2 separate regions of the Homo sapiens genome follow, and region 1 is linked to region 2. The links come from fine-mapping of genetic effects on gene expression. A gene starts in region 2. The other region holds a variant in brackets. All regions are shown on one strand. Distances are between the middles of the regions. Region 1 has its middle 16 kb from the start of CENPA. Region 2 holds the start of SLC35F6 (solute carrier family 35 member F6).

The links. PIP is the estimated chance that this variant, and not a neighbour inherited with it, causes the effect.
Region 1: its variant is the best candidate, but not a certain one, in a credible set for the expression of SLC35F6 in blood mononuclear cells (TOPMed, PIP 0.62).

Annotation. Positions count from the first base shown.
Region 1 is chr2:26,799,799-26,804,186 of GRCh38, reverse strand. No RefSeq gene overlaps it. Among named protein-coding and RNA genes, the nearest start is that of CENPA, 16 kb to the right of the region's middle. The variant AAT/T (reference allele first, on the strand shown) is at 2,724.
Region 2 is chr2:26,761,565-26,765,952 of GRCh38, reverse strand. It overlaps SLC35F6 (solute carrier family 35 member F6), which reads right to left and starts at 1,669. Exons shown (of 6, transcript NM_017877.4): 1 at 1,527-1,669. The coding sequence starts at 1,603. RefSeq lists a silencer at 1,493-1,802 and an enhancer at 1,813-2,012.

The sequences.
Region 1 (4,388 bases), 38 kb before region 2:
TGGGCAACATGGTGAAACCCTGTCTCTACAAAAAATAGAAAAATGAGCTGGGTGCAGTGGCGTGCACCTATGGTCCCAGCTACTCGGGGGCTGAGGCAGGAGGACTGTTTGAGCTGGGAGGTCAGCGTTGCAGTGAGCCAAGATTGTGCCACTGCACTCCATCCTGGGTAACAGAGTGAGATCCTGTCTCAAAAATAAATAAATAAGATAAATTATTCTCTGGTGTACCAAAGGCATAATTAATGAGGTTAAGACAAGGGAAAGCAAAGTTGAGATATATATGTGAGTGTGTATCTTAAATATATATACCTAATATATATATATCTCCCTATGTATAATATATATGTATATATCTCCCTATATATATAAAATAAATACTTAAAACTTTCTGAAACGTAATTACTTGAGTGACTGGTGAGGTTTTTTTTTTTTTTTTATCACTGAAGGTATTCAAATAAAGGTTGACTGTTACAGAAGACATTCAAGTAAAATGACTTTTTATTTATTTATTTTTTTTGAGACAGGGTCTTGCTCTGTCGGCCAGGCTGGAGTGCAGTGGCACGATCTCGGCTCACTGCAACCCCTGCCTCCCGGGCTCAAGCAATTCTCCTGCCTCAGCCTCCTGAGTAGCTGGGATTACAGGCATGTGCCACCACGCCCGGCTAATTTTTGTATTTTTTTTTTTTTTTTAGTAGAGACAGGGTTTCACCATGTTGGCCAGGCCGGTCTCAAACTCCTGACCTCAGGTAATCTGCCTGCCTTGGCCTCCCAAAGTGCTAGGATTAAAGGCGTGAGCCACCGCACCTGGCAGTAAAATGACTTTTAAGATATGTTCTGAGGCTGGGCGTGGTGGCTCATGCTTGTAATCCCAGCACTTTGGGAAGCTGAGGCAGGCGCACCACGTGAGGTCAGGAGTTTGAGACCAGCCTGACCAACATGGAGAAATCCCATCTCTACTAAAAATACAAAATTAGCCAGGCGTGGTGGCACATGCCTGTAATCCCAGCTACTCGGGAGGCTGAGGCAGGAGAATCACTTGAACCTGGGAGGCGGAGGTTCTGGTGAGCAGAGATCACGCCATTGCACTCCAGCCTGGGCAACAAGAGCAAAACTCCATCTCAAAAAAAAAAAAAAAAAAAAGACATGTTTTGACCCTGAAATTCTATGATGAGTTCAAGCTGAACATCAAGTATGGCCAACAGGGATTGCTGAAGGATGACAGGAAGGGTGCGGTGGCTCGCGCCTGTAATCCCAGCACTTTGGGAGGCCGAGGTGGGTGGATCACCTCAGGTCAGGAGTTCGAGACCAGCCTGGCCAACATGGTGAAACCCCATCTCTACTAAAAATACAAAAATTAGCCGGGCATGGTGGCATGTGCCTGTAGTCCCAGCTACTAGGGAGGCTGAGGCAGGAGAATCACTTGAACCTGGGAGGCAGAAGTTGCAGTGAGCCGAGATCACACCACTGCATTCTAGCCTGCAACAGAGCAAGACTCCGTCTCAAAAAACAAAACAAATAAACAAAGCCAGAAGACCATGAAGAGAGGGTTCTTATGCATAAATGCCTGATAACAAAAACTATCATAAAAGACTCTACAAAAACCAAAACCTTACTTGGGCCATTGTAACCTTAACACACAAAATAATGGTCCGTAGTCCGGGCACGGTGGTTCACACCTGTAATCCCAGCACTTTGGGAGACTGAGGCTGTCGGATCACTTGAGGTCAGGGGTTCAAGACCAGCCTGGCCAACATGGTGAAACCCAGTCTCTACTAAAAATACAAAAATTAGCTGGGCATGGTGGCGGGCACCTGTAGTCCCAGCTACTCGGGAGGCTGAGGCAGGAGAATTGCTTGAACCTGGGAGGTGGAGGTTGCAGTGAGTGAGATTGCGCCACTGAACTCCAGCCTGGGCGACAGGGCAAGACTTCATCTCAAAAAAAAAAAAAAAAAAAGGTCCATGAAGCACTTTCAGACCCAGTACCTTAGACCTAGTGTCATCCCGGAAGTTGCCATAGCCCTTTCCTTTCCCCACTTGGAGCTTATCACTGCCTCTTAGCCCACTGCTGGACGAGACTCAGCTGTCCTCCTCCACTCCTCTCTCCAGAAAACTCCACTGCCATGAGCATGGAGGGAAACAGCCTTGTCCCCCAGGACCACAGCCCTGTAGAGTTCCTGTGAATGTGCACAACTCAAGCAGGCTCTCCCCACGGCCTACGCCAGAACACAGGGCAGGAGACACCAAGGGCTCCAGCCCAGCCGAGGATTTCAGGGCTCTCAGGAACGGATGAGCAATGCCTTTTTAAAAAGTGATCAGTAAAGTGAAGCAGCCGAAGATGTGCTGAGTCCCAGTGGTGTCTGAAGGGTGCTGGTTGGGGCTTGGGAGAGGATGAGTATTTTTGGGGAGAAACAAGGATGATTTGGGGCCCCCTGGATTTGGTGGGCCAGGCCAAATAGAAGTGAGTCAGGCAGGCTGCTGGTAAATACAGCAGACAAATAGGCTTCTCTAAACAGCATGTAAGGCCGTGGATTTGGAGGTTTGTAATAAGAGGTTGCAGAAAAGCAGGGAACTTAAATCGATCCTAGAAACAATTAGGAATCTACTTCTACCCTTCTGCTGTCGCATGGTGTAGCAATATTGGCCCAGTGCCAGGGAGGGGAGAAATTCTCAATTCAAATGCTTCGGCTGCTCCTTCAAGATGAATTTGGTTTTTCAATCCACTC[AAT/T]GTCTTGGGAGCTCTAAATCTGTCTTGTATAAGTGATGTGTTGTCTGCAGTTGAGAGCATCAAATCAGTGCTGAAAGAGCATTATACACTGAAAACCTGTATCAGTGTAAGGCATTATTATTACTCTGTTACTCAAGCGGAGGGATGTCCTGCAGGATGGAAAATTGAGGCAATTGAGGCAAATATTCAAAAAATATGTGTCAAATGACTTTGTTACACATTTCTTAAAAATCTGCAAAAATATGCAATATACTTACTGAGAATATTAATGTGAGGTTGGAGGCAGAATAACTCATAGAATTTTAGAAGGGGCGTTCATAACCATCTATGGAGGGTGGACTTGAGGATCTCATGGAAATCATGGCTCCTCTCAGAAAAGTGCACAAAACACAGATTTATGAAGTTACACAGAATTTTTATTTCTTTATTTAAAAAAAAATAGAGACAGGGTCCGAGAGGCTGAGGCAGGAGAATCGCTTGAACTTGGGAGTTGGAGGTTGCAGTGAGCCGAGATCGTGCTGCTGCACTCCAGCCTGGGTGAGAGAGTGAGACTCTGTCTCAAAACAACAACAACAACAACAACAACAAACAGAGACAGGGGCTTACTGCTGCCCAGGCTGGTCTTGTCACAAAATCCTGGCCTCAAGCAATCCTCCTGCCTCAGCCTTCCAAAGTGCTAGGATTACAGGTGCTCAGTCGGAATTTTTAAATATATATATTTAAATATATACACAAATATATATATATATTTGTGCATTGGAAATTAATTTCCTTCACACATTCAGAACATTTATAAAAACTTTACAAAGAACTGCCTCTCAGGCTGGGTGCAATGGCTCACACCTGAAATCCCAGCACTGTGGGAGGCTGAGGAGAGTGGATCACTTGAGCCCAGGAGTTTGAGACCAGTCTGAGCAACATGGAGAAAACCCATCTCCACTAAAATAAATACAAAAATGGCTAGGCACAGTGGCTCACGCCTGTAATCCCAGCACTTTGGGAGGTCGAGGCGGGCAGATCATGAGGTCAGGAGATCAAGACCATTCTGGCCAACATGGTGAAATCCCGTCTCTACTAAAAATACAAAAATTAGCTGGGTGTGGTGGCGTGTGCCTGTAATCCCAGCTATTTGGGAGGCTAAGGCATGAGAATTGCTTGAACCTAAGAGGCGGAGGTTGCAGTGAGCCAAGATCGCGCCACTGCACTCCAGCCTGGTGACAGAGTGAGACTCTGTCTAAAAAAAAAAAAAAAAAAAAAAATTAGCCAGGTGTGGTGGTGTGCTCCTATATTCCCAGCTACTCGGGAAGCTGAGGTGGGAAGATCACCTGAGCCTGGGGAGGTCGAGGATGCAGTGAACTGTGATCACACCAATGCCCTCTAGCGTGGGTGACAGAGTAAGATCCTGTCTCAAACAAACAAACCCCCCAAAAAAATGCATCTCCAAGTCTCTTTTTTTTTTGTTTTTGAGGCAAAAGTCAGTAGCCAATATTTGTAACCCCCAAACTTGAAACTATCCAAATGTTCAATAGAATGGAAATATACAAATTTAGGCATAGGCCGCTCTGCCTACAGAGTAGCTATGCTTTATTCTTTCACTTTCTTAATAAACTTGCTTTCACTAAAAAAAAAAAAAAAAAATTTAGGCATATCCACACAATGAAAC
Region 2 (4,388 bases):
CTCCTTGTGGGCAGCAGCCCTGGTGGACTTACAACCGCTCTCTAAGCACTTGACAGAGGCCCTGGCTGGCATGACAGAACAGAAGACTTGCTTTGCTGTGTTCAGATCCTGAGATGGGAGCCCTCAGGCTGGGGCCTCTGAACAGCTAAGGATTCAGCATGAGGAGTGATCCTCAGGAGGATGCAGGGCCTGGGAAGCTAGTAGTTCTCCACAAGGCACAGTTGGCCAGAGGTGAACCAGAGGAACAGGTGGGGCCCACCCAGGACTCCACTGACTGTGCCCACCGTTTGGGGAAGGGAGAACACTGTGACTGTCGTGTGCGTACACGTCTGTCTCCTCCACCTCAGATTCCAAGCATCTCAAAGGCAGAGATCGCCTCTTGGTCACTTCTGTCCCCTTCCCTTACACACCGTAGGTACCTTATACATGGGATCGTGCCATTGCACTCCAGCCTGGGCAACAAGAAAAGGAGGGGCAGGAAGGCCCTGCCCTGAGATGGAGACAGAGAGAGACAAAGAAATGCCATCCTGCCCACAACAGAGGGGAGGCTAGGCCCTGTCCCTCAGTCTCATGACTGCCTGGGTCCTTAGTCCCTAACCTCCTGGGAACTGTCCCCCCTCTCACCCCCATACATCAGAGCTGAACTGGCCACTTGCCCTCTCTGTCTGAGTTAATGGCACTTTTCTTCTCCCAGGCAGAAACCCTGGAGTGATCCTTGTTTCTTGCTCATGTGGGTCAGGCCTGTGGCCATTCACACCTGGTCTCTGCCACCAGTTGTCCCTTCCTTTCTCTTCTCACTGCCACCTCCTAGTTCCCCTCATCTGCTATGCAGCAGCCTTGGAGTGGTTTTTCCTGCACCAAACCACTCCTCATGTCATTGAGTCAATCATATCACTTTCAACATGTCATTCCCCAGCTCAAAAGCACTTTTCTGATTATGAGAGAAAATCTAACCTGGGCATTTGATGCTGGTTACAATCGACTTTGATCTGGCCTTTCCGTAGACTTTCCTTGACTTACAGTCTCAGACACATTCCGAAATCCCACCTAAGCTTCAAAGCACAGCTCTAACCCCTCATCCTTGAGGGGCCGTGGGGCACCTCCCTGTCTGCCGCTTGAGGCCTCCACGCTCACTGGGTCACTCGGCCTGCACAGCCACTACTGCGGCTCATGTGCACAAGTCCAGGGGTCTCTCCCAGCTCGTGGAGGGAGGTGCTCAGGCTTGGACGCCAGCACTGGAAGGGCCGTGGAAAGGAATCGGCCAACCCTCCTGTTAAAAGACGTGGAAACAGGAGCGGAGGCTGTACAGCAAATCAAAGCCGGGGCTCGGATCCCCCCGTCCGGGGCGCAGCCCCGCTCCGCATTTCCCCGGGCCTCGCATCCCTTGGGTGGTCATAACGCGCGCGAACTGACCGGAGCAAGTGGGAAAGCAGGGGAAGCCAGGAGGGCAGGGCCAAGAAGGGGGAAGGCGTAGAACGAGCGCCGGGGTCGCCAGGGCCCGCACGCCCGGCAGGGCCCAGACTCACTTTGCCGAGAGCGTGTTGATGGAGCCGGTAACAAGCATGAGCCCGGCCAGGAACAGCTGGTACTTGGTCCAGGCCATGTCGGCGGACGCTGGGGTTCGCTCCAGTTAGCGGCGCCGGGCCCCGTCACCCGGGGTCTCCTGCGCGAGCGCTTCCGGGCCGGGCGTCACGTGACCCCTCCTGCTCGCCCCGCCCCCGGGGAGCGCGCCTGAGCCACGGTGCCCGCGCTCTGCCGAGTCGTCCTGGAGCGCTTTGGTGGCCACGCCGTGGCCCTGGCAAATCACGGCCCAGGCCTTCCAGTTTTTTTTTTCTTTTCTTCCTCACTCTCCCCCGCCTTTTTGGGTTTCTTTTTTCTATTTTTTTGAGAAGGAGTCTCACTCTGTCGCCCAGGCTGGAGTGCAATGGCATGATCTCGGCTCACTGCAATATCCGCCTCCTGGGTTCAAGCGATTCTCCTGCTTCAGCCTCCCGAGTAGCTCGGATTACAGGCGCCCTTCACCACGCCCGGCTAATTTTTTGTATTTTTAGTAGAGACAGGGCTTCACCATGTTGGCCAGGCTGGTCTCGAACTCCCGACCTCAGGTGATCCGCCCTCCTCCGCATCCCAAAGTATTGGGATTACAGGCGTGAACCACCGCGCCTGGCCTTGGTTTCTTATTTTTATCTTTGGGTCTTCCTATTTGTAAAAGGGGCGGATGGGACAGTGCAGTGAGGGTGCATCGTGGCTATTACAGCATTTTGTGAATCGTTTTGAGAGGTTGAGCTGGGCGGTGTCAGAAAGGAGCCCTGAAGTGGGCCTGCCGGGAGTTCCTTGGGGACCCTGTAGAGAGGAGATTCCCACGCTGGACGTTTCCACTTCGGGGCTCCTATCTGATACCGCCCACCTTGGGCACAGTTCATATCTTTCAGCAAAGTGGCGAAGGCATCTAGCTCCAGTTGCCGAGGACACCATTTTATAGCTGAGGACAGTAAATTCAGCGAAGCAGAGTGATTTGCTTAAGAACCTGCTGGTGAGCAGTGGGGTAGGGATTTGCGCTTGGGTTCTCCAGTCTCCAAAAATCCGTGCCTTCCGCATGGCCTCTGCACCAAGCCCTGCTTCACTGCTCCTTTGTGGACTTTCTGGTCGCAGCTGAGGCATCCAGGCAGAAAGACCATCCCTAGGTTTGTTTGAAGAGGGTGTTGACGAAGAGTCACACTCTAAAATATTTGAAGGGATTTATTCTGAGCCAAATATTTGTGACCATGGCCCGTGACACAGCCCTCAGGAGGTCCTGAGAACATGTGCCCAAAGTGGTCGGGGCGCAGCATTTTAGAAAGACACGAGACATCAATCAAATACATTTAAGAAATACATTGGTTTGGTCCAGAAAGGTAGGACAACTCAAAGCCGGGAGGAGGGGAGAGGGTGGGGCAGGAAACGGGAAAAATATCTATCTATGTTAATAGAGATTTTTGTTTTTTTTTGAGACGGAGTCTTGCTCTGTCGCCCAGGCTGGAGTGCAGTGGTGCGATCTCGGCTCACTGCAACCTCCACCTCCCGGATTCAATCAGTTCTCTGCCTCAGCCTCCCAAGTAGCTGGGACTACAGGTGCCTGCCACCACGCCTGGCTAAATTTTGTATTTCTAGTAGAGATGGGGGGGGTCTCACCATGTTGGCCAGGCTGGTCTTGAACTCCTGATCCACCTGCCTCGGCCTCCCAAAGTGCTGGGATTACAGGCGTGATCCGCCACGCCCGGCCGGTAATAGAGATTCTTTACAGATGCAAATTTTCCCCCACAAAAGACAGATTTGCAGGGCCATTTCAAGATATGGCAAAGAAAAATGTTTTGGGGTAAAATCTTTTGACTTTCTTCTTAGTCACATAATATTATGCCAGAGTCAGATTGGAAAGTAAGTCATGATATATAGGGTTAAATAAAACCCATCTGATGAGAATTTATGGTTTGTAGGGCATGACTCTCCAGACCTCTTAGGTAGGAATTTGGGCAAGGTAAAAAAAATCAGAGCTTAGTCCTCAAGGGGTTCTGGTGTTTAAAATCCTACTCTTGGCTGGGTGTGGTGGTTCACACCTATAATCCTAGCACTTTGGGAGGCTGAAGCGGGCTGATTGCTTGAGCTCAGGATTTCCAGACAAGCCTGGGCAACATGGCAAAACTCAGTCTCTACTAAAAATGCAAAAATTAGCTGAGTGTCATGACAAGTACCCATAATCCCAGCTACTCAGGAGGCTAAGTAGGAGGATCGCTTGAGTCCCTGGAGGTGGAGGTTGCAATGAACTGAGATCATGCCACTATACTCCGGCCTGGGTGGCAAAGTGACACCCTGTCTTAAAAAAAGAAAAAAAAAAGGCCAGGCGCGGTGGCTCGCACCTGTAATCCCAGCACTTTGGGAGGCTGAGGCAGGTGGATCACCTGAGGTCGGAATTCAAGATCAGCCTGACCAACATGGTGAAACCCCATCTCTACTAAAATACAAAAAATTAGCCAGGTGTGGGGGTGCATGCTTGTAATCTCAGCTACTCCGGAGGCTGAGGCAGGAGAATCGCTTGAACCTGGGAGATGGAAGTTGCAGTGAGCCAAGATCGAGCCATTGCACTCCAGCCTGGGCAACAAGCGCGAAAACTCCATCTCAAAAAAAAAAAAAAAAAGAAAGAAAAAGAAAAGAAAAAACTGCTCCTAATATGCCTTTCCCAGTGCTCTAGTCTGCACCCATGCCCTGTCACGCCAGCGACAAGATCCTTTTGTTACCAGAAAGGGGTTCTGATCCAGACCTCAAGAGAGGGTTCTTGGACCTGGCACCTTGCGGGGAATCCATAAAGTGAAAACAAGTTTATTAAGAAAGTAAAGGATAAAGAATGGCTACTC